Homo sapiens: one gene and its partners. The protein of the gene in region 7 purifies or fractionates together with the protein of the main gene of each other region. This does not show direct contact. Each region holds a gene or a part of one and is shown on either strand. Other genes may lie near its edges. The genes, in order: TMEM109, ARCN1, ATP13A2, ETFB, SPAG1, ESYT2 and ATL3.

Region 1 (3,393 bases), 2.7 Mb from region 7:
TTTAGTAGTCACCCTATAAAACTGGAGGCCTGCTAGCTGTCCAGGGAGTCATGAAGGTGCGTGGAGAACATCTGTAAAGGGATAGGATGTTCCAGTGAAAAAGGAGTCTATCAGCTATACTATATTATGGATTTAATAAATGATTGTCTCAGCCCTTCAGTCCAGCCTATCAAAAGTATGTGATACCATGCTTGGGATGCCACCAGGTAAAAAAAGATAACCCTGCCTTAGGCTCCCAATAAGCTCAACCCACTTCTGCAGGTGAAGGAATGGATTCAGGACTTGATATTTTGCCATTTCGAGATTCTAGGTCAGATTTAGACCAAAGTGAGACTCTACAGTCACCCAGTAACATGGGCTTATAAAGATGGCTCATTTCCCAGCCTTTCTGGCAAGGAAAGGGCAGGAGCCAGGAAAGGATAGGGGTGGAGCTAAAAGGCCCTAGGACAGCAATCAAATAACGAGGAATTCAAAGACAAGTGCTGTGTGGCTTCTTTTTGTGGAATTTGGGGCTCTCTGCACCAGAGAGGATGTGGAACTAAGATGAGGTGGCCATTACCAACCTTTCTTCTTTTATTTTTCCTTAATGTGTGTAGTCACACAGGGACTACCTTCCTTACCTCTGACACCAGGTGCATGGTCTCTGGCCCAATCCAGGCATCCAGTGTCCCTCGCACAGATCGACCTATCTGGGTCAAGACATCAACTGGGGCTTCTCTCTTCTGTTGGCCTGGTGGTGCAAAGTCTCGACGGGACTGGGCCAATGCTGAGTGGAGGAGGATAAGGGCCACTAGGACCATCAGAATGGCTTTGAACACATGCTTTCCCCATGGTGAACTGATGCTGGAGGCTGCCATGACTGGGTCTGCCAGGAGAGAAGCACAGTGAGCTGAGTGCCATGGTAGACACACTCACCCTCTCAGCTCTGATTATCCCAACATCCTTCTCCACCCCTACCCCAAGCAAGCACCAAACTAACCCTGGAAAGAAAGTGCTGTTAGCTGGGAGAGGAAGGACTGGGACTTCCAACTGAAGCTGGGCACAACCATCTGACTCACAGGTTCCTCTTTCACATTCTTTACCACTTGCATATTAATTAACCAGCAAGTATTATTCAACACTTTAGAGTTGGCGAGAAGATCTCTCTAAGGTTTGTGCCAGTTCTAAAAATCTGAAGGCCTGTCCCTGTATCTTAGGTGCTATAGGCATAAAAGTATTATAAGACTCTATAAAGGCTCTGTCCCAAGGAGCTTATAATCTACTTAAGATACAGCTGGTATAAAAAACAACTTAAAAATAGCACACAAGTAGGATTACTGCCATATAATGGTATAAAGAAAAGTGCTCAGTTATGTGCTCAAACAAGAATAACTGCACATATGTCATCTTCTCTGCAGGACCATCATGTGAGGTGGCTTTTATCCTCCTCGCCCCTACTGGTACAGACGAGAAGAAACTGTGACTCAGAAGTTAAGCATTTTCCCATGGTCACTGGGCTACACAGAAAGGCCAGGATTTGAACCCAAGCTTCTGCTTCCACCCATCTTCATTAGGAGTCAAGTTATACTGTGGGTCTCAACCATGGCTGCTCACTGGAATCACCTGGAAGCTTCCCAAGTACTGATGTCTGTGTCCCCAGCCCAGAGGTTCTGATATCATTGTCTGGGTGTGGCCTAGCCTTGGATCTGCAAAAGCTCCCTAGGCAGTTCCACTGCATGAAGTTGAGAACCACTGATACAGAGTGACCTCACCTCCCCACCCCCAATGGAGGTGCTATGGTTTGAAGAGCAAAACTCATGTTGAAATTTAACTGTTCTTGCACCTCCTGCAGAGCCTGGGAGCTCCCAGTCCAGCCAAGGATGTTGGATCTCATGGTCCTAAGTACTTCTTTGACACCCCATTCCCCTCAGTAAAATAGTTTGACCCCTTCTCCACCAAAAAAAAAAAAAAAAGAAAGAAATTTAATTGCCATGATGATGGTATTAAAAGGTGGGACCTTTAAGAGGTGATTAGGTTATGAGGGTTCAGCCCTCATGAATGGATTAATGCCGTTATCTTGGGAGTGGATTAGTTATCCCAGGAATGCAGCTCCTGATAAAAAGGATGACTTTGGCCTGATTTCCTGTCTCTGTCTCATGTGCTGGGTTCTGCCTTCTGCCATAGGATGACCCTTGCCAGATGCCAGCGCCATGCCCTTAGACTTCCCAGCCTCTGGAACTGTGACCCTAATGAATTTCTGTTCATTATAAACTACGCAGGCAGTGGCATTCTGTTATAGGAAGCAGAAAATGGACGAGGACAGTGAGCAAGGGTATAATGAACAACCTTTAAAGAAATACTATTAATAAAAAGCTAACATTCAGCTAGGTCTTGCCATGCACCACCGCGCTCATTTAACTGTCACAACAGCCCATCGGGTAGGTGTTGCTATTATCCCCCATTTTACTGAAGTAATTGAGGCAGGTTAAGTATTAACTGGGGAAATCAGCATTTGAATGTAGGTACTTCTGACATTGGACCCCTCATACACAACAACTCTGCTGTATTGTCTCCAACTAAGTCTCAGAAGTGATTTAGAAAGTCATACAGGCCAGGCACAGTGGCTCATTCCTGTAATCCCAACACTTTGGGAGGCTGAGGTGGGAGGATTGCTTGAGCCCAGGAGTTTGGGAGCAGCCTGGGCAACATAGGAGACCCTGTCTCTACAAAATAAATATAAATAAATAAATTAGTCAGGTGTGGTGGTGCGTGCCTGTACTCCCAGCTATTTGGGAGGCTGAGGGGGGAGGATCACTTGAGCCCAGGAGGTCACGGCTGCAGTGAGCTATGATCATGCCACTGTATCCCATCCTGGGCAAGAGAGCAAGACGCTTAAAAAAAAAAGTCACACAACAGATTATTCATGAGTTAAAATAAACTTGGCATCTACCAATCATCTCAGTGAATTACTGGTGAAAATTACCTAACAACTTTGTGCTTTGTGCTCTGGTCTTGTAACACAATGCCACAGACAAGTTAAGACCCAACAAGTGCCAACTCATTGAAGCAGGTAAGGATCAGCCAAGAAAAAGTACACAAGTTCAACTTCTACTTGCCACTGTGCTTGAGAAATGTCAGACAGCGCCAGCAAATTCCCTGTTCCCCTCCAGGTTCAGAAATGAACCTGTAGCTCCAGGAGTTTTCATGATTCAGACCTGATGATCAGAGGCTAAGCCATGCCCCTGAGGTAGGAGCAGTCAGGTTTTTGAACTTTTTGCAGTTACACAGGCACTCAGGGAGTTGACAATAAATCCAGAGCCATGAGGGATGGAGAAGGAAGAGAATGATGTCCTAGTCTTGCTTAGGGGGAAGGAGGAGAGTCTAGGAAAGGGTTCTAAAAATACTACATTTAGG
Region 2 (3,500 bases), about 55 Mb from region 7:
AATGAATAGTAGGCAATGGTGAGAAAACAAACAACTGAAAAAACTTTCTATTTGTAAGTATTTTCAAGCTTAAAAAAATTAAAATTATACAAGGAAGACATATATACCCTTTTCCAGATTCACCTATTGTTAATATTTACCTCATTTGTTTTATAATTTGCACTTGTGTTTCTCTCTCTCTAAACATTATATATGTATGTTATACATTTGATTTTTTTTCCCTGAACCATTAAGAAGCAGATTATATACAACACGGCACTTTACCCCTAAATACTTCAGTGCTTATTTTATAAGATTAGGGATATTCTCTTACATAATCAATCACAGTACCATTATTAACTTCACAAATTTACACTGATAGTTTTTTTAGCTTTTTGTTGTTGTTGTTTTGAGATAGAGTTTCACTCTTCTTGCCCAGGCTGGAGTGCAATGGCGTGATCTCGGCTCACTGCAACCTCTGCCTCCCGGGTTCAAGTGATTCTCCTGTCTCAGCCTCCTGCGTAGCTGGGATTTCAGGCACCTGCCACCACGCCCGGTTCATTTTTGTATTTTTACTAGAGTCAGAGTTTTACCATGCTGGCCAGGCTGGTCTTGAACTCCTGACCTCAGGTGATCTGCCTGCCTCGGCCTCCCGAAGTGTTGGGATTACAGGCGTGAGCCACCGCACCCAGCCTGTTGTTGTTGTTTAAGAGACAGATCTTGCTATGTTGCCCAGGCTGGAGTGCAGTGGCTATTCAGAGACACAATCACAGTTCACTATAACCTTGAACTCCTGGTCTCAAGTGATCCTCCTGCCTCAGCCTCCTGAGTAGGAAGGACTACAGCCATGTGCCATCATGCCAGGCTAACAATGATACAATAATTGTATCCGATCTGTCAACCATATGTCAATTTCGTCAGTTGACCTAATAATATTTTTAATAGTAGTTGTGATATTATGATATACATACATACCGGTTTTCATCCATGGTTCCTAGCTCATAACTCCCATATCCCTTATTATACATAATGTTGGGGCACTTTAGGCCTCAGGAGCAGCCCTTAGAAAAAAGAACCTCTCTTTGACCTTCTCCTGCCCTCCTTTCACCAGCCCAAGGCAGGATCTCCAAAAGGGGTCCTGCACCATATCCTGGAGGAAGATTAATGCTGCACAGAGAGGCCAAGAATTTGGACAGGCCTTGCTGTGTTTCCCCACTCAGCCTATCAGTATTAGGTCATACCCTTGCCCAGTCACATTTCTGCATGCCTGTCAATCATGCCTATCCAATGAAGTCTCCATAAAAGGCTCAAGAGGACAGGGTCTGGGAAGCTTCTGGACAGCTGAACACATGCAGGCTTACAGGAAGATGAACAAGGTCTCATCTATTTTCCAGGAGGGTGGCGTACCCCAGCTCCCTGGGGACAGAAGCTCCTGTGCTCAAGACCCTCCCAGACCTTGCCCTATGTATCTCTTCATCTGGCTGCTTATTTGCATCCTTTAAAATGTCCTCTGTAACAAACTGATAAATGTCAAGTAAGTTTCCCTGAGTTCTGTGAGGTGCTCTAGCAGATTAATTGAACACCCCAGAGGGGGTCGTGGGAGGCCAAACTTGAGGTCAGTAAGAAGTTCTGAAAGTCTGGACTTATGACTGGTGGGAAGGAAGAATCAGTCTTGGGGGACTGAACTCTCAACCTGTAGAATCTGAGGCTATTCCCAGGTAGATAGCATCAGAATTGAATTGAATTGGAGGACACCAGCTAGGTGTGACCGCTTGATGTGTGCGGAAAAATCTAAACACACTTGATCACAGAAGTCTTCTGTGTTCATTGTTGCTGTTGAATGAGAAAATAGAAAAAACAAACAGTTTGAGTTGTTTTTTCTACACTACATTAGTAGAGGATCCAGTCTAGGGTAAGGTATTGCGCATTTAGATGTCATATCTCTGCAGTTTCAAATAAGGAGATTCTTATCTCCAAAATAATTAAATGAAAAATGCAATTGGAAGACGTGTCTAGTTTTACTGCTTTGCATAAAAGGGGGAAAAATAGACACACTGTATACATGTTTTTTATTCATCTGTATATCACAGACCATCCCCCTTAGAAGGATACACAAAAAACTCTGTTAATACTAGTTGTCTCCAAAATGAGAAACTGGCATGGCTGAGTGAGAGGAAGACTTCTGACTGTTAACAACTTTTGAATTTTGTACTATATGAATGTATAATCCAATTTTTAAAAGATTAAAAACTGCTGCTGCTAGAGGCAAGTATTAAGTACAATCTATTCATATTCAGTAATAGACATACGTTTGGCTGGATGAACTACAGAGGCTACAAAAAATATTTTGTTATCCTACCATGTTCTTTGTTCCAACCTCTTAGGTCTTCCTAGAAACAAAGGCATCAGAGTCAAGACCATAAAGGAGTGCATCTTAAGACAATGCATGGTACCATTTTACCTTCACAAAAGTTTGCTCTGTGCTCAAGAGGCAATTTATCATTTAGAAAAAAACAGTGTCTCAAATTCTCTTTAATATGTGATGATCTCCAACATTTTTTTTTTTTTTTTTTTTTTGGAGATAGAGTCTCACTCTGTCGCCCAGGCTGGAGTGCAGTGGCACCATCTTGGCTCACTGCAACCTCTGCTTCCCGGGTTCAAGCAATTCTCCTGCCTCAGCCTCCTGAGTAGCTGGGACTACAGGTGTGTGCCACCACGCCCATCTAATTTTTTGTATTTTAGTGGAGAAGGGGTTAATTTTTTGTATTTTAGTGGAGATGGAGTTTCACCATGTTGCCCAGGGTGGTCTTGAACTCCTGAGCTCAGGCAATCCGCCCACCTCAGCCTCCCAAAGTGCTAAGATTACAGGTGTGGGCCACTGCACTCAGGAATATCTTTTTAAAAGTGTGAAGCCTCTGTCTCACTCAAAGCAACCACTAGGAAGAGCACAGCGGCTTTAGTGAATCAAGAAATTTATCCCAATGTAACCCTGTTCATTTCATACAGAACAGGGCATATAAAGAGTAAATACTTGGCTGGGCACGGTGGCTCACGCCTATAATCCAAGCACTTTTGGGAGGCAGAGGCAGGCAGATCACTTGAGGTCAGGAGTTCGAGACCCACCTGGCCAACACGGCAAAACTCTGTCTCTACTAAAAATAAGAAAATTAGCCGGGTGTGATGGCGTGCACCTGTAATCCCAGCCACTTGGGAGGCTGAGGCAGGAGAATTGCTTGACCCCGGGAGGTGGAGGTTGCAAGATCGTGCCATTGCACTCCAGTCTGGGAGACAGAGCAAGACTCTGTCAAGAAAGAAAGAAAGGAAGAAAGAAAGGAAAGAAGAAAGAAAAAGAGTAAATACTCCTCTTTTATGCACACCTGATAAAGGTATCCTCCTGGTATTATCTTTCACTTGACCTCAAAACCATCAGCAACAGTAGAAGGTCTGGCTTCAAGACGAGAAATCTGAGTCACGAATATGTGAACTTGATAACTACCACTTAAAAATGTCACCAACCAGTA
Region 3 (3,500 bases), on a different chromosome or scaffold from region 7:
GGCTGACATCATTATCCCCATTTCTCAGAGGTGCCACCTGGAACCCAGGCTGTCTGACAGCGCACATGGGTTCCTTGGAAGTCACTCCACTCCTCTGAGTCTCAGTTTCCTCATCTGTCAAACAGGGGTGACAATTACCACTTGCGGGGGGGATATTGTGAAGATTCACGAAATGTTTAAAAAGGACCTGGCCTGAAGCAAGGGCCCAAAAAGATGCCCCAAAAAGGAATCCCTGGTGCCCCTCTTCTCTGCCAGGAAGGGGCGGATTCTGCCCTGCTAGCCCGGGCCCCTACATGCCATTGTACCTGTCACCATGACGGCGCGGATGCGGGTCCTTCGCAGAGCCTGGATAACTGGCGTTGTCTGCGGCTTCAGTAGGTTCCTCATGACCAGCAGCCCCAGGAGGCTCAGGTCTCCTTCCACAGTGTCCCTGGAGGGTGGGCAGACCTGGATCAGAGGTCATGCAGTGGCCAGGGCCCCTCTCCCAGCCACCAGGCAGGGCATCTTCCTTGGGCTCTGCCTGCGTGAGAGCCTCCCTCTGCCTAGTCCTCAGAGTGGGTGGGACAGGAGACAGGCCCACCTCGTCAGTTGCTGGGCTGCCTCCAGGCTGGGCACAGTGGGCAGTGGCTTGCTGGCCAGGGCCACGACACGGTAGCCAGCAGCTGTATAGCTCTGCAGCATCTGGGCGAAGTCGGTGGGCACTGCCAGGGAGAGGCAGGTGTCACAAGGAGGGGATGGCAGGGACAGAGGCTGGGTACCCACCCCATTCTGTGCCAATGCCCAACCAGGGGGACTCAGGGGCTTCCCCCTGCACCTGTCTCGGGGTTGCAGAGCCCTGCCACCAGCTCCGGGGAGCCTTTGACGTAGGCCTCGGGCTGAGTGGCCCCTGGCCACGCCACCACCACACTCATGCGCTGCAGAGCCGAAGAGAAGGGGAAGCGGTGGAGGACGCTGACTGGCACCGGGGGCTCCTCCTGCAGGGTTGGAGAGGCAGCTGAGGTGCTGGCTGGGGAGCCCACCCCTCTGCCCTGCACCCAACAGGCCCCCCTCAGCTCACCATTGCCTGCAGCTGGGGCTCCCAAAGTGGGGGTCTCATCACTGCCAAGACCTGGGTCCCAAATGCTGAGTCTGCAGCCGGCTCTTCCTCCAGGACCTGGCAGGCAGGCAGGGAAGTTTGGTGTCTGGGGGCTTTGGCTCACAGAGAGATTTGAGCTAGACTCAGGGAAGACTTCCTTCATGGGAGACTGAATGGTGGGTTAAGAATGTGGGCTTTGGAGCCCGGTGGACTCAAATTCAAACTCTAGCTTTGCTACTTACAAGCTGTTGGGTGACCTGGAATACGTCACTCCAAATCTCCCAGCCTCAGCATCCGTGAAGCAACATTTGAGCTTGCTTGCTAGGGCTTGGGGAAGAGGAAATGAGACCAGGCCTCTGTGGCCGTGCGCTGGCGCATAGTAGGCACTCAGCCTGAGGCCTTGCCATTATTATTATGTTACTTTTATTTTAAGACAGAGTCTTACTCTGTGACCTAGGCTGGAGTGCAGTGGTGTGATCTCGGCTTACTGCAACCTCTGCCTCCCGGATTCAAATGATTCTCCTGCCCTCAGCCTCCCAAGTAGCTGGGACTACAGGCATGTTCCACCGCACTTGGCTAATTTTTGTATTTTTATTACAGACGGGGTTTCACTATGTTGGCCAGGCTGCTTTCAAACTTCCGACCTCAGGTGATCTGCCCACCTCAGCCTCCCAAAGTGCTGGAATTACAGGCATGAGTCACTGCACCTGGCCTATCATTATTATTTTTTGAGACAGGGTCTCGTTCTGTTACCCAGGCTGGAGTGCAGTAGCGTGATCACAGCTCCCTGTAGCCTCGCCCTCCCGGGCTCAATTAATCCTCCCACCTCAGCCTCCTGGGACTACAGGCATGCACCACCACGCCCGGCTAATTTTTGTATTTTTGGCAGAGATGGGGTTTTGCCATGTAGGTCAGGCTGGGGTCCCGGGCTCAAGTGATCCTCCCGTCTTGGCCTCCCAAAGCGCCGGGAGCCACGTTACAGGTGTGAGCCACTGCGCCTGGCCTATTATTATTAATGGTGGGCATAATAAGAGACCACCCTGAAAGATGGAGAGGGAAGACAGGGTGGGATTCGTTAGGCCCCACTGCCCAGAGGCAGGGGGCTGACCTGCTTGGCCTCCTCACCCAGCCAGTAGACTCCACCATCTTCAAGTCCATGGGGTCGCCCACGGGGGTGTCCTGGAGCCGGCTGAGGGCATGGCAGGTGGCCAGTGCTCGGAGCAGGGGCCCCACAGGCAGGCGGCGAGGCTCTGGGACCAGGGGCAGGAATGCCTGCCCCTTCAGGGGCACCACCCCCATCACGTCTAAGCCGTCCTCAGTGAGGGTGCCCGTCTGTGGGAGACAGGTGGGTGGGGCAGCGATGAGTCCTGGGATGGGGGTACCCTGCTGAGCTGGGCCTCCAAACCCCAGGCCCGGCGGACCCTATGGGAACCCCAGGAACTCGAGCTGGAGCCAAAAGATGACCTTTCTTGACTGCTGTCCTTGGCACATGTGATTCCCTCTGCTGGGGTCCCCCTCCCCAGCCCCCACCGTCTCTCTGTCTAGCATCATCTCTTCCAGGGTGTCTTCCTCCTTAACTCCCAAGTTAGGGCAGGTGGTTTGCTCTGGGCTCCTACCCATGGCCTCTTCACTTCCCCACACTTGTGCATTGTGGTTAAGGACCCGGCCCACGGTTGGCTCGCTCTCTCTCTCTCATTTATTTATTTATTTATTTATTTATTTTTATTTTTATTTATTTTTATTTTTTGAGATGGAGTCTTGCTCTGTCGCCCGCGCTGGAGTGCAGTGGCGCAATCTCAGTTCACTGCAACCTCCACCTCCCGGGTTCAAGTGATTCTCCTGCCTCAGCCTCCCGAGCAGCTAGGATTATAGGCACGCGCTACCTCGCCCACCTAATTTTTGTATTTTTAGTAGAGACGGGGTTTCACCATGTTGGTCAGGCTGGTCTCGAACTCCCGACCTCAGGCAATCCACCCGCCTTGGCCTCCCAGAGTGCTGGGATTACAGGCATGAGCCACCACGCCCAGCCTCAATATATCTGTTGAATGAGCGCATGAGTCAGTGCCTGCGTTCCCCATCCTAGACTCTAACTGCCCAAGTACGCGTCTGGCTCCTTGGCTAGCCTGGGAACTATAAGAATCTGGTCATCCCCCTCCCCGGTTTATTTATTTTTTTTTGAGACGGAGTCTCACTCTGTTGCCCAGGCTGGAGTGCAGTGGTGTGATCTCAGCTCACTGCAACCTCTGCCTCCCGGGTTCAAGCGATTCTCCTGCCCCAGCCTCCCGAGTAACTGGGACAACAGGCATATGTCACCGTGCCTGGCTAATTTTTTATATTTTCAGTAGAGACGGGGTTTCACCATATTGGCCAGGCTGGTCTTGAACTCCTGACCTCATGATCCACCCGCCTCGGCCTCCCGAAGTGC
Region 4 (3,500 bases), on a different chromosome or scaffold from region 7:
CTCTGACATTTTCTACCCTTTTTCGGAAAAATGCCAGCCCTCTGCCTGGATGTCATGATCACACATGGTCACAACCTAATTTGGAAAACACCAGCATGAAAGACCTCTTTGCTAAACAGACAAGGGAGGTAAGGGAGGTGGGTGGCAAACCCCACCCATTTGCTTCTGCACATCATTTTTGTCTCTCCTGGGCCCCACTGTGTGCCTGGCTCTGAGCTGGATCCTGGGGACACCATCATGTGCCAGGGAGAGAGGCTTCCGGTGTAGACCAGGGTGTAGCGTGAACCACTAACCACTCTCCTATTAGTTTCTCTCGGCTGCCGTAACAAATCACCATATATTTGGTGGCTTAGAATCTTACAGCTCTGGAGGCCAGAAGTCCAAAGTCAGTGTCACCAGGGTGAGACCAAGGGGTCTGCAGGCCCCGGGAGGAACACGTTTCTTGCCTCCTCCAGCTTCTGCTGACACTCCCTGGCTTGTGGCTGCATCGCTTTATCTTCAATGCCAGCATCCTCAGCTCTGTCTTCACGTGGCCTTCTCCTCTCTCTGCGTGTCTAGTCTCCCTCTGTCTCTCTCTTATAAGGACTCTTGAGATGGCATTCAGGGCCCACCTAAATAATCCAGGATAATGCCCCCATCTCAAGATGCTTAATTTAATCACATCTGCAAAGACCCTGTTTCTAATTTCTTTTTTTTTTTTTTTTAGATGGGCTCTCGCTCTGTCGCCCAGGCTGGAGTACAGTGGTGAAATCTCGGCTCACTGCAACCTCTGCCTCCCGGGTTCAAGCAATTTGCCTGCCTCAGCCTCCCAAGTAGCTGGGATTACAGGCATGCATCACCACGCCTGGCTAATTTTTGTATTTTTAGTAGAGACAGGGTTTCACCATGTTGGCCAGGCTGGTCTTGAACTCCTGACCTCAGGTGATCTGCTCTCCTCGGCCTCCCAAAGTGCTGGGATTACAGGCATAAGCCAACATGGCCAGCCTGCAAAGACCCTGTTTCTAAGTGATTTCCCCTTCTCAGGTGCCAGGGATTGAAACCTGGCTGTTTTGGAGGGCTATTTTATTTCTTGGCCCACCACAATCCTTTTTTTCTTTCTTTCTTTTTTTTTTTTTTTTTGAGATGGAGTCTTGCTCTGTTGTCCAGGATGGAGAGCAGTGGCATGATCTCAGCTCATTGCAACCTCTGCCTCCCCAGTTCAAGCGATTCTCCTGCCTCAGCCTCCTGAGTAGCTGTGATTACAGGTGCCCACCACCACGCCCAGCTAATTTTTTGTATTTTTAATAGAGACAGGGTTTCACTATGTTGGCCAGGCTGGTCTCGAACTCCCGATCTCTGGTGATCCACCCACCTCGGCCTCTCAAAGGCAGGGGATTACAGGCGTGAGCCACCGCTCCTGGCCCAACCTGAGTTTTTATAAGGTCATTCTGGATTCTTGGTGGAGAAAATTGGAAAAGGATGAGAGGAAGTGGGGAGAGAGCTGGGTGGCTGTTTGTCACCAAAGTGAGAGGTGACAGTGGCTCAGACAGCTGTGACAGCAGAGACAGATGCAAGAGGTTTCTGGAGGTGCAACTGACAGGCCATGGTTCGTGATGGGAAGATGACACCAAAAAGGGGCTTCCAGTCAGTACATCAGCCAGAGCCGGGAAGACGGCGAGTTTGGTTTGGGGCACAAATTTTTAAAAAGCCTCCAGGGACATCCACAGAAGCCTTGCTAGGGAGCTGCCCCATTTGGCCTGGAGCCTGCCCTCTTCCTCTTCTCCCATGTGGCCGCCACCCAGGGCTTGGCCAGAGCAGATCTCGGGTGGCAGCTGAGCCTGGTGAGGACACTGGGATGCTCTTGCTATTTCCCTGCCCCTTTTTCTCTGGGGCTGTGGGTGTAACTGTTCCTCCCACAGGCAGGACAGAATCCGAGATGAGAAGGTGGGACCCATAAGGGGCTTCCCACTCTGGCTGTGCCTCATGGAGAGGGTAACATTAAAAGATGGAGGACTGAGACCGGGCGCAGTGGCTCCTGTCTGTAATCCCAGAAATTTGGGAGGCCAAGGTGGGAGGATCACTTGTGCCCAGGAGTTGGATACTAGCCTGGGCAACAGGTTCTACAAACAACAACAACAAAAACAAAAACAGCTGGGCGTGGTGGCTCATGCCTGTAATCCCAGCACTTTGGGAGGCCAAGGTGGGCGGATCACCTGAGGTCAAGAGTTCAAGACCAGCCTGGCCAACATGGCAAAACCCCATCTCTACTAAAAATAAAAATAAAATAAAAAATTAGCCGGGCATGGTAGTGCACGCCTGTAATTGCAGCTACTCAGAGGCTGGGGCAGGGAGAATTGCTTGAACCCAGGAGGTGGAGGTTGTAATGAGCCAAGATTGCGCCACGGCACTCCAGCCTGGGCGACAGAGCAAGACTCCGCCTCAAAACAAACAAACAAACAACAACAAAAAAAAAAAAAAAAAAACAGCCAGGTATGGTGGCACACACCTGTAGTCCCAGCTACTCAGGAGGCTGAGGCGGGAGGATCACCTGAGCCCAGGAGGTCAAGGGTGCAGTGAGCCGTGATCATGCCACTACATGTAACCTGGGTGACAGAGCAAGACCTCATCTCAAAAAAGAAAAAGAAAAAGAAAAAGGAGAAAGAGGAGAAGGAGCTGGAAGAGGAGAGGAAAGAGAAAGAACTGTTATTTTCATCTCTCTCGTTGCCCAGGCTGGAGTGCAGAGGTGCCACCTTGCCTTACTGCAACCTCCACCTCCCGGGCTCAGGTGATCCTCCCACTTCAGCCTCCCCAGTAGCTGGGACCACAGGCGGGCACCATCATGCCGGGCTAATTTTTTTTTTTTTACTTTTTGTAGAGAAAGGATTTCCCCGTGTTTCCCAGGCTGGTCTGGAACTCCTGGCCTAAAGTGATCCGCCTGCTTCAGCCTACCAAAGTGATGGGATTACAGGTGTGAGTCGCAGTGCCTGGCCTTTTTTCTTAAAAAAAAAAACACAACATAGGAGTTGCCCCTTTAAGACAGAAAAGAACCTCATCCACCCATCAGTAAGAGGCCCCAAGCTTCTTGCTGTGAGTCAGGGAGGCTTCTGAAGGGCCTCAAGCCACATCTTGCTCTTGCTCTGGCAGAACTCCCAGCCCTAAGCTCCTGATTCCCAGGCTCCTGACTCCTGAGGAGAAAGGGTAAGAACTTTCCAGACACACACACACACACGCACGCACACACACCTGAGGAAACAAACTAGCTCATCTTCTCAATTAAGCTTGAGTTGATTTTAAGCTTCAAAAACAGTTTAGTTATATTACATAAGTCAGGAAACAATGGTAGGGCTGAAAAATGATAGCTTGTTTGTTTTTTAAATAATGATGGCTCATGCCTGTAATCCCAGCACCTTAGGAGACTGAGGAAGGAGGATCACTGGAGCCCAGGATTTCAAGACCAGCCTGGGCAACATAGAGAGACTTCATCTCTACCAAAAAACAAAATTAGCAGGTCATGGTGGCGT
Region 5 (3,818 bases), on a different chromosome or scaffold from region 7:
TGGTCATGTCTTGTTAGGTGCCCTTTCTTTCCCTCAACTTCTTCAGTGTATTGTGTGACTCATGGAAGATTAAATGTTGACTCTAGCCAATTCGAAGAGTAAACAACCTGGAAGGATTTTATGGAACAAAAGTATTATAATAACTACCATTTGCATAGTCCTTTATAGGTTTAAGCCACTTATTATTTGTTCATTTATTTCTTGGTACAGCCTTGTGAAAATTTGAATAGAGCTTTTGTTCCCCTTATGTTAAAGATGAGAAGACTGAAGCCCAGAAAGGTTAAGTAGGATCTTAAGTTTCATTGCTAGTAGGTGCTAATACAAGGATGAGTTCATTCTTTCATTTATTCATTCAGCAAGCAACAAGTGCTTATCATGTGTTAGGGACTGGGAAGGTTGTGGTGATACAGAATTTAACTTGCGTTTTCTAACTCCAGATCCTGTGCTTTTTCTTCTATAGTCGATGTTCACTGTATCATGGGTTATACTATTTCAGCTGCATATTCACCCCACAGGCTCACTTTGTAAGAGTGGTATTAATGTGGACCCTGCACACATACTGCACAGCTCACTACATCCACCCCACTCCCACTCAGGTTACTCTAGGCTCCTTCTATTTATGAAAGTTATTTTCTCTGTCTTCCTACTTACAGAATTATCAGAAAAGCTTAATTGATCTCAATAAAGTTATCCTACTAGATCCAAGTATTATTGAGGCAAAGATGGAACTGGAAGAGGTAACTAGACTCCTTAATCTTAAGGATAAGACAGCACCATTCAACAAAGAAAAGGAGAGAAGGAAAATTGAGATTCAAGAGGTATTTGTATTTGATTATCTTTGAAAGTACTCCTTTGGGGACCTTAGACTGGATTCTAAGGTCATATTCCTGTGAGTTCTAAAACATTTTTAATTTTGTGTTTTTATTCTGATGATCAGTGACAAAATTTTAACCAGCAACAAAATGTCTCCTTTGCAATGATAATTAGCCATTGTATTTCCCAACGTGGGTCCATGGATGGTACTGGGAGTCTCTGCATTACTGCAGTTCTTCCTTTCTTTGGCCTCCATCTGTACTGCTCCCACTCCAGAGTACACTGGGAACCAGCGGCCACTGACTTTGCTCCAGGGTAGACCTGGAGAATCCTGACGGGACTGATTTTGTTACAGGGGCCCTGAAAGCCTCACCTCATAGAGATTATCCAGATTGATTCAGACCTTTTTAGCACTCTGAAATATGACTGCCTCATCAGAGATCTCGAACTACCTCAGGATCAAACTGCTTTTGTGATTCAGATAACTAAAATGTTTTTCTCTGCCTAATATTAGGGAAGAATGTTAGGCTGTGAATCCCTGTACATTCATGAATGCTAATACCCCATTTATAGTCTCACATTTCCACTAAGAGTAAGAGGCTAATATGTAAGAGAAGCTAGGAAGGTTTTTTTTCCTCTTTAAGGAGGGAAGAAAAAACTGTTTTAGGAGAATCGAGCAATGTAAGTTCATTTCTCTGTTAAAATTTATTGTGAAAAGGAGATAAAATTGACATAGGCATTTATACAACAATTGTATAAAGTCTAAAAATTAAATTTTGTTGTCATAGTTTCAATGTCAAATAATTTTTTAAAACTTTTATGAATTGGATCTTACACCCTAAAACTTCTCTTCCTAAAAAAAATTATTACAAAGTTTTCACTTGGAACTGGACTACAGTACAGTCTACTTGTAGTTTTCAATTCTCATTCTGACAGACGTACTTAGGATGTATGTGGTGATTGTGGTTCAGTGTCACAATGCATTTTTCTTTTCTTCATGAAGGTGAATGAAGGCAAGGAGGAGCCTGGAAGACCTGCAGGGGAGGTCTCCATGGGATGCCTTGCTTCTGAGAAGGGAGGCAAAAGCAGCAGGTCACCAGAAGACCCTGAGAAACTTCCGATAGCCAAGCCTAATAATGCCTATGAATTTGGTCAGATTATAAATGCTCTCAGTACCAGGAAGGATAAAGAAGCCTGTGCACATCTTTTAGCCATCACTGCACCAAAAGATTTGCCGATGTTTTTAAGTAACAAACTTGAAGGGGATACATTCCTTCTCCTCATTCAGTCTCTGAAAAATAATCTTATTGAAAAAGATCCCTCATTGGTGTATCAGCATCTTTTATACCTGAGTAAAGCAGAAAGGTTTAAGGTAAGTGGCTAAGTATTTTATTAGTAGAAATTGGTTTTATTAGGGTTTCTGTAACTTAAAAATGTTACTTATGCTAACATAGTTGGTTTTTTGTTTTTTTTTTTTTTTGCTTCTTTTAGATGATGTTGACACTAATTAGCAAGGGCCAAAAGGAGCTAATTGAACAGCTGTTTGAGGACCTTTCGGACACACCAAACAACCATTTTACTTTAGAAGATATACAGGCCCTAAAAAGGCAGTATGAGCTTTAAATCAAGATAATTGTTAGATTTCTTCCATGCATGTATGTGTTCCAGGAATGTTAATGAGATGGTATTGTAAAAGAGTTGCATGGATAAAACTTGGCCTAGAAAAGTTTGGTCTGCACTATAAAACATTTTACTTATTTTCCTACATAGAACATGTATATTCTACAATCTGCTTTTTATTAGTTGTAAATATTTTCTTATGTACCAGAACCAAATAAGTATATTTAGAACTTGTTAAAAATACATTTTAATTTATGATATACATATTATTTTAATTACTTGTTAAAATTTTGAGTTAAGTTGCATTTCTTTGGGCTATGAAGGAGTCCTCTTAAGTTTGATAGAAATGAATTTCTTGTAACATTCTTTTTTAAAAGTGGAAGTCATTAACAGTGATTATTATATCACTTATATCCTGCTAAGATACACATAAATCCCATTTTGTACTAGTACCTGTGGATTACAGTCAGTTAAAATGAAATGCAACACTGAAGTCTATAACATGAAATGATTATTAAATTGTTTATTAATTTAGAGCTATAAGAGGAACTTATTTTTTCTAATACGGAAGCATTGCCTAATAATTAAGAACAAAAATTGCCAAAAATTTCTACCACTTTTTACTAGATTTTAAAAAGCTACTTTCTTTTATATTGCCTATATAAGCAAAAAACCAACCACTGTATTAAAGCAAACTAAGCCTGCATTTATATCTGAATTATTACCTCCATATTTTACCAAACATTTGAATGTCCCCCTTCCCCCTTTTTTGTTTTCTGCTTTTATGACTGTATTTATTCCTTTACTGTAAAAGAATATGAAGAACTCATACATGTTGAAAGCTCCTTTGTTGACTGGGTCAAAGTGAAGGAATTTCAATCTCCATCAGTGTACTGTCATTTATTTCTGCGGTCTGTAGTGCGTTCCCCCTTTCTGGAGCATTTTCTTATTCACTTAGAAGTGAAGATGAAAGTTAGTATCATGTTTACTATTTCCATATTCATTATTATTTTATCTAATCTTTTATAGTTACAGAATATTTTAACTCATCTTGGGTAAATATCTTTCAAACTGTGCCATTTTTCTTTGAAACTGCTTTCTTTGTTCATAAGTGAAAAATCTGTAATGGGACTTTAGTCTTCAAACAAAATTTCTCCTTTTTAATGTTATTGAATTTTTATAAAAGTAAATGGTGGATTGTTAGAAATGTATCCTATGTATGGAGTTTACTTACAGAAATGGGACCACTCTTTTCCTATACATAGCAACTTGAAATTAACTTTAGAGACAAAAGGGAACTTTCTCTTTTGGTGCCTGACACAGTGACATTAATAACTGTAGGTGATTTTGTTGAGCTTTGTGATAGGCACTGTGTGTCATTTATC
Region 6 (2,507 bases), on a different chromosome or scaffold from region 7:
ATCCTGTTTAGACTGTTAAAAGCAGGTTTCTGTACTTAAGAGTCCCCCAGACCTCCTGTGAGGTGAGGCTCTGTTGCAGTGTCGTAGGCTGTGTGTGTCTGTAAAGAAAGAATGCACATATGTAGACGATTAAGTGTATATTATAAGCTATATGCTGAAAATGGCTTCCATAGCCATGAGAACATCTTAAAACTATGTGTAAATATATTAAGGAAAGTATAGCTTTGTAATTTAAATTGGAGCTTTTAGCTTGTTTCATGGAACTATACAACTTGTGGGTAACTCACATGACCAAACAAACCAAAGTGCCTGTGACGGGGCGGGTGGCGTCTACCCACCCTCCCTTCTAGCAGATTCTTATTTTGTTTGAATTTATAAACAAGGCTGGTGGCTGTCTACCCACCCTCCCTTCTAGCAGATTTTGATTTTGTTTCAATTTATAACTTACACTTTGAACCATGGGTTTACTTATAATGGAGTCTGTAGCTTCACAGCATATTTCATGTAATCATAAAGACCAGTATATTCCCTCCTGCTGAATGACATGCGACTGTAAAGCCTCTTTATAAACCATTTCCAATGTTAGTATATAGGATTATTTGGGAAGCGTATCAATACCTTTATAGACAAATACGAACATGTATGCACACAAAACATTTAACTATGGTATTTATGGAAGACAGGTAACAACATTAAATCTAGTTGCTTTCCCTTAGTATTAGATTTGTTGAGGGTTTTTTAAAAATCAGGTCTGTTGAAAGTCTTCTGTCATAATCTATAAAGCAGCAGCACTCATGGAAATTGTAGCATGCCAGTAATTTTTACCAACATCCCATACATCTGAGTTCTGCAGTCCAGTGTGTAATCCGCTCCATGTGTATTTTGCTTAATGGAATGCTTTATTTAAGCACTTAGGCAGAGTAGACACAATTAAAGGTACAAAGCCCAGAGGAAGTGGTAGAGCAGCACCGTGCCTGCCCTGAGGCAGTGGAGTCAGTAGCGCTGTCCCCAGGGCCTTGAGTGCCTGGAGGTGCTTGGCCTCCAGTAGCTGCCTCCATTCTCTTTTAAAAAAAGGGGGTGATTCTGAGGCACTGAAGTGCCTCCCAGATGTGGAGGAGTGAAGCCACCATCGAGGCCACACTCAGCACTCCAGGATCCCAGCGATGTCAGACACTCTTGAGTTGTCAAAACGTTAATTTTCAGTTTTAAATAATCAGTTTATCTAAGAAAAGGGAATTTTAACTTTTCTACCTTGAGCCAAGCCAATGAAGGGAAAATTAATTAACTTAGTAAATTTGAAGTGCAGCTCTGTTAGCTCGTACATGTGGGTTCTTATCCTGATCCTGTGCCTTAAAGTAGGAAGGTGTTTCCAAGTTCAGATTAAAATAGAAGCAGCTGGCCGGGTGCGGTGGCTCACGCCTGTAATCCCAGCACTTTGGGAGGCCGAGGCGGGCGGATGACCTGAGGTCAGGAGTTCAAGACCAGCCTGGCCAACATGGAGAAACCCCATCTTTACTAAAAATACAAAAATTAGCCGGGCGTGGTGGTGGAGCGCACGCCTGTAGTCCCAGCTACTCGGGAGGCTGAGGCAGGAGAATTGCTTGAACCCAGGAGGCGGAGGTTGCAGTGAGCCAAGATCGCACCACTGCACTCCAGCCTGGGCAACAGAGTGAGACTCCGTCTCAAAAAATAAATAAAATAGAAGCAGCCTTGTAACTGTATTTACCATGATAATATATTCTGCACGGTAAGAATTCCTTTTACAGACATTCTTTATCAAGAGGTCGGCCCTTCTTTTTCAGGCACATAAGCCAAATGCAGGCCTGTGTGTAGCTGTGTGTTTTTTCTGTGGTTGCCGCATTTATTCCACCTCCAGCTGGACCCCCCACTGCAAATAGAGAACAGCGGTGGGGGATGGGGGTTAAAAAGTAGAGAACCTCCTTTCTGTTCAACTAATTTCACGTGACAGTGCATGTATTTATTCAATAAAACCTTTATGTTAGCTCAGTCGTGATTTGTTTTTCTCTGTCTTTTGAAGGGAGGTGTTCAGTGTGCAGTCAGATAATTTGAAAGGAGACGTCGTGCACTGTTTCATTTGCTGTCTGCACTCGCGTTTTCCCAGCAGCTACGTCAGAGCAGCTGACATCCTTCCTGTTGTTCCCAGCTCAGTTTGACTCTCCTCTGCCCAGCACATTACACTCCACATGTCAAAAACAGCTCTTCTAAAGGATAATCATACGTAGAAAAAATAAACTTTAAATGTGTTTTTAACTAGGGCTCTGAGAAGTGCAGCGGGGACTGCCGAGACACCTGAACATTGGAACACTGAGGGTGATACTGGAGTATCCCTTCCTGTTGCGTTCATTACTGGTGGTCTGGATCGACTTGAGTGGAGCCCTTGCGCTTTTCCTCGTAGCCGCTCGGCATTTCACACCAGGCACTTCCTTTCTCCTTGACTGTGGGCCTTTGACACCGGGCACTTCCTTTCTCCTTGACTGTGGGCCATC
Region 7 (3,500 bases):
TCAAAATTAAGCACTAACTATATTATACTTTCCTTACCAGAGTTTCCCTACCAAAGCACAAAGATAACTAATTAATTTGAAATTCAGGCCAGGCACAGCATCCACGCCTGTAATCCTAGCACTTAGAGAAGCTGAGATGGCAGGATTGCTTGAGGCCAGGAGTTCAAGACCAACTTGGCCAATATAGCGAGAGACTGTCTTAAAGAGAAGAGAAGAGAAGAGAAGGCAAGGGGCCGGGCGTGCTGGCTCACCTGCGCAATCCCAGCACTTTGGGAGGCCGAGGCGGGCAGATCACCTGAGGTTGTGAGTTCCAGACCAGCCTGACCAACATGGAGAAACCCCATCTCTACTAAAAATACAAAATTAGCCCGGTGTGGTGGCACGTGCTTGTAATCCCAGCTACTTAGGAGGCTGAGGCAGGAGAATCGCTTGAACCCAGTAGGTGGAGGTTGTGGTGAGCTGAGATTGCACCACTGCACTCCAGCCTGGGCAAAAGAGTGACACTCCGTCTCAAAAAAAAAAAGTGAAAAGAAAGCAAGAAGGAAATTCATTCAGGCTAGACATGGTGGCTCACACCTGTAATCCCAGCACTTTGGGGGCCAAGGCAGGCGTGTCACCTGAGGTCAGGAGTTCGAGACCACCCTGGTCCAACATGGTGAAACTCCATCTCTACTAAAAATACAAAAATTAGCCGGGCGTGGTGGTGGGTGCCTGTAATCCCAGCTACTCCAGAGGCTGAGGCAGGAGAATTACTTGAACCTGCACGGTGGAGGCTGCAGTGAGCCAAGACCGTGCCACTGCACTCCAGCCTAGATTTCAGAGCAAGACTCTATCTCAAAAAAAAAAAAAAAAAGAAAGAAAGAAAGAAATTCAGAGCCACTTAGTAGCTGTGGACTTATGGGAAGTTCACAAAAAACTACCAGTGGGGCGTAAGGAATGAATAAAGAACTATTTCCCTAAGAGTATGTGTCACTGGTATTAAAGATGTTTTTAGGTAGTTAAAAGGACATAGTAATTTTAATAATTATGCATGTTAATGTATACTTTAAAACAACAAATCTGTATTTTGATAAATTATTCTTTAGAAGGATGCTAAGTTTAAGAAGTCTGTTTATTTATTTAAGACAAGGTCTGGCTCTATAACTCAGGCTGGAGTGCAATGGCACAATCTTGCCTCACTGCAACCTCTGCCTCTCCGGCCCAAGTCATCCTCCCACCTCAGCCTCCCAAGTAGCTGGGACTACAGGCATTCATCACCACACCCAGCTAATTTTTGTATTTTTGGAGAGACAGTGTTTCACCATGTTGCCCAGGCCCGTCTTGAACTCCTGAGCTCAAATGATCCACTCGTCTCAACCTCCCAAAGTGTTGGGATTACAGCGACACCGTACCCAGCCAAGAAGTCAATTTAAAGTCGACTTAAGGAGACATATTAAGTAAAGCTTAGTACTGACAGGCAGACATGGCCAAAATCACAGCGACACAGTACCCAGCCAAGAAGTCCATTTAAAGTAGACTTAAGGAGACATAGTAAGTAAAGCTTAGTACTGACAGGCAGACATGGCCAAAATCACAAAGATGGTTCCAAAATGACTTTGTCTAACCAGCACTGAAGGCTACACGATCATGGCAGGCAAAGCAGACAAAACAGTTTGACTGCAAGACTCTCTCCCCTTCAAGCTACTGGAATTGCTGCTCACTTTTTACATTTATAGTATCAGATAGCAACAGAAGGGTTCTTCGCACTTTTTTTTTTTTTGGAGACAGTATTTTGCTCTGGCACACAGGCTGGAATGCAGTGGTGCAATCCTAGCTTACTGCAGCCTCAAACTCCTGGGTTCAAGCAATCCTCCCACCTCAGCCACCAGAGTAGCTGGCAGTACAGGTGTGTGCCACCATGCCTGGCTAATTTTTTAATTTTTTTGTAGAGATGGGGGTCTCATTATGTGGCCCACATTAGTCTCAAACTCCTGGGCTCTAGTGATCCTCTCACCTCAGCCTCCCAGAATGCTGGGATGATAGGCCACTGTGAATGTGGATGATAGCCACTGTGGCTGGCTTCTTCCTACTTTTTAAGTTTTTGCAGACTATTGGAAAACAAGTTATAAATATAGGTTAAATGTCATGCTATCATTGTAATCAATGTATACTAATACTTTTCTTTCCTGTTATTGCCTGGATTAAAAAGGAAACACTTCTGTGAATAATCTCTTAGGGTTCTTATTGCCCCAGCAGCAGGTAAATCCAAGATCCAAAGACCTTCAGTCTTTCATACAAAGAACTAATGAGAAGAATTTATTCAGACTTCAGGGATAAGCCACAGTGTTAAGTACTGTGTAGCACTCAAAGAAATACAAAACAAAGTCTTGATTGTGGCAGAGATGTCTGGTTGTTCCCCCAATATTAATTTCTCCCTCCTGCTATATAATAGATTTTTAGCTGGGCATACAACTGCCCAGAAGAAACACATTTCCAACCCAAATTTATAGCTAGGATATGACCAGGTGACTAAATTCTGAACAATGGGAAGTGACTGGAAATAACAGACACAACTTCCAGATCAGGCATTTTCCCCCTGCTTGCTGGCTAGATGTAAAAGTGGGAGTGAATCATCTTGGGCCAGGCATATGAGGGCAACACCCCAGGAATGCTGGAGAAACAAGAGAGGTCAGATTTCGTATAGCAGAACTGCCATATTGGTTCACTTCTGTGTGAAAGAAAAATAAATGTCTACCTTGCTTAAATCACTTATTTGGAGGCTCCATCAAATACAGCCAAGCCTAGCAGCCAACACAACAGTCTTCCAGGACTTTACAATTAAGTTCATCATACCAGATCTTTTTGTTTTATCTATTTCACTATTAAAAGTTTACTGAGCGAGGCCAGCCTCGGTGGCCCATGCCTGTAATCCCAGCACCTTGGGAGGCCGAGGCAGGCAGGTCACTTGAGGTCAGGAGTTCGAGACCACCCTGGCCAACATGGTGAAACCCCATCTCTACCAAAAATATAAAAAATTAGCTGGGCGTGGTGGTAGGCACCCGTAATCCCAGCTACTCGGGAGACTGAAGCAGGAGAATCGCTTGAACCCGGGAGGCAGAGGTTGCTGTGAGCCAACATTGCGCCACTGCACTCTAGCCTGGGCAACAGAGCGAAACTCTGTCTTTTAAAAAAAAGCGTACTGAGCAATGTGAATGTAATGAGCAATATCAATGTAATGACACACAGCACATACAATAAGCTATTGTTTTTTTGTTTTTTTTTTTTGAGACGGAGTCTCGCTCTGTTGCCCAGGCTGGAGTGCAGTGGCGCGATCTTGGCTCAGCGCAACCTCCGCCTCCCGGGTTCAAGCGACTCCCGAGCAGCTGGGACCACAGGCATGCACCTCCATGCCCGGCTAATTTTTGTATTTTTAGTAGATAGAAGGTTTCACCATATTGGCCAGGCTGGTCTCGAACTCCTAACCCTGTGATCCACCTGCCTCAGCCTCCCAAAGTGCTGGG

Evidence for each region.
Region 1: the proteins of ATL3 (region 7) and TMEM109 purify together in Homo sapiens (affinity purification with mass spectrometry; one large-scale study listed by BioGRID and IntAct). This does not show direct contact.
Region 2: the proteins of ATL3 (region 7) and ARCN1 purify together in Homo sapiens (affinity purification with mass spectrometry; one large-scale study listed by BioGRID and IntAct). This does not show direct contact.
Region 3: the proteins of ATL3 (region 7) and ATP13A2 purify together in Homo sapiens (affinity purification with mass spectrometry; one large-scale study listed by BioGRID and IntAct). This does not show direct contact.
Region 4: the proteins of ATL3 (region 7) and ETFB purify together in Homo sapiens (affinity purification with mass spectrometry; one large-scale study listed by BioGRID and IntAct). This does not show direct contact.
Region 5: the proteins of ATL3 (region 7) and SPAG1 purify together in Homo sapiens (affinity purification with mass spectrometry; one large-scale study listed by BioGRID and IntAct). This does not show direct contact.
Region 6: the proteins of ATL3 (region 7) and ESYT2 purify together in Homo sapiens (affinity purification with mass spectrometry; one large-scale study listed by BioGRID and IntAct). This does not show direct contact.

The regions. Positions count from the first base shown.
Region 1 is NC_000011.10:60,917,158-60,920,550, reverse strand, and holds part of TMEM109 (voltage-gated monoatomic cation channel TMEM109 precursor), read right to left. Parts: intron 2,936-3,393; exon of another isoform or gene 1,398-2,935; intron 866-1,397; 5' UTR 858-865; coding exon 621-857; intron 1-620. UniProt on the Homo sapiens protein: Functions as a voltage-gated monoatomic cation channel permeable to both potassium and calcium. Plays a role in the cellular response to DNA damage.
Region 2 is NC_000011.10:118,585,909-118,589,408, reverse strand, and holds part of ARCN1 (coatomer subunit delta), read right to left. Parts: intron 1-3,500. UniProt on the Homo sapiens protein: Component of the coatomer, a cytosolic protein complex that binds to dilysine motifs and reversibly associates with Golgi non-clathrin-coated vesicles, which further mediate biosynthetic protein transport from the ER, via the Golgi up to the trans Golgi network.
Region 3 is NC_000001.11:16,991,429-16,994,928, forward strand, and holds part of ATP13A2 (polyamine-transporting ATPase 13A2), read right to left. Parts: intron 2,408-3,500; coding exon 2,201-2,407; intron 1,154-2,200; coding exon 1,058-1,153; intron 975-1,057; coding exon 815-974; intron 702-814; coding exon 581-701; intron 431-580; coding exon 306-430; intron 1-305. UniProt on the Homo sapiens protein: ATPase which acts as a lysosomal polyamine exporter with high affinity for spermine. Also stimulates cellular uptake of polyamines and protects against polyamine toxicity.
Region 4 is NC_000019.10:51,356,389-51,359,888, forward strand, and holds part of ETFB (electron transfer flavoprotein subunit beta), read right to left. Parts: intron 1-3,500. UniProt on the Homo sapiens protein: Heterodimeric electron transfer flavoprotein that accepts electrons from several mitochondrial dehydrogenases, including acyl-CoA dehydrogenases, glutaryl-CoA and sarcosine dehydrogenase.
Region 5 is NC_000008.11:100,238,587-100,242,404, forward strand, and holds the end of SPAG1 (sperm-associated antigen 1), read left to right. Parts: intron 1-653; coding exon 654-818; intron 819-1,816; coding exon 1,817-2,185; intron 2,186-2,304; coding exon 2,305-2,436; 3' UTR 2,437-3,318; downstream 3,319-3,818. UniProt on the Homo sapiens protein: May play a role in the cytoplasmic assembly of the ciliary dynein arms. May play a role in fertilization. Binds GTP and has GTPase activity.
Region 6 is NC_000007.14:158,730,497-158,733,003, reverse strand, and holds the end of ESYT2 (extended synaptotagmin-2), read left to right. Parts: 3' UTR 1-2,007; downstream 2,008-2,507. UniProt on the Homo sapiens protein: Tethers the endoplasmic reticulum to the cell membrane and promotes the formation of appositions between the endoplasmic reticulum and the cell membrane. Binds glycerophospholipids in a barrel-like domain and may play a role in cellular lipid transport.
Region 7 is NC_000011.10:63,661,377-63,664,876, forward strand, and holds part of ATL3 (atlastin-3), read right to left. Parts: intron 1-3,500. UniProt on the Homo sapiens protein: Atlastin-3 (ATL3) is a membrane-anchored GTPase that mediates the GTP-dependent fusion of endoplasmic reticulum (ER) membranes, maintaining the continuous ER network. It facilitates the formation of three-way junctions where ER tubules intersect.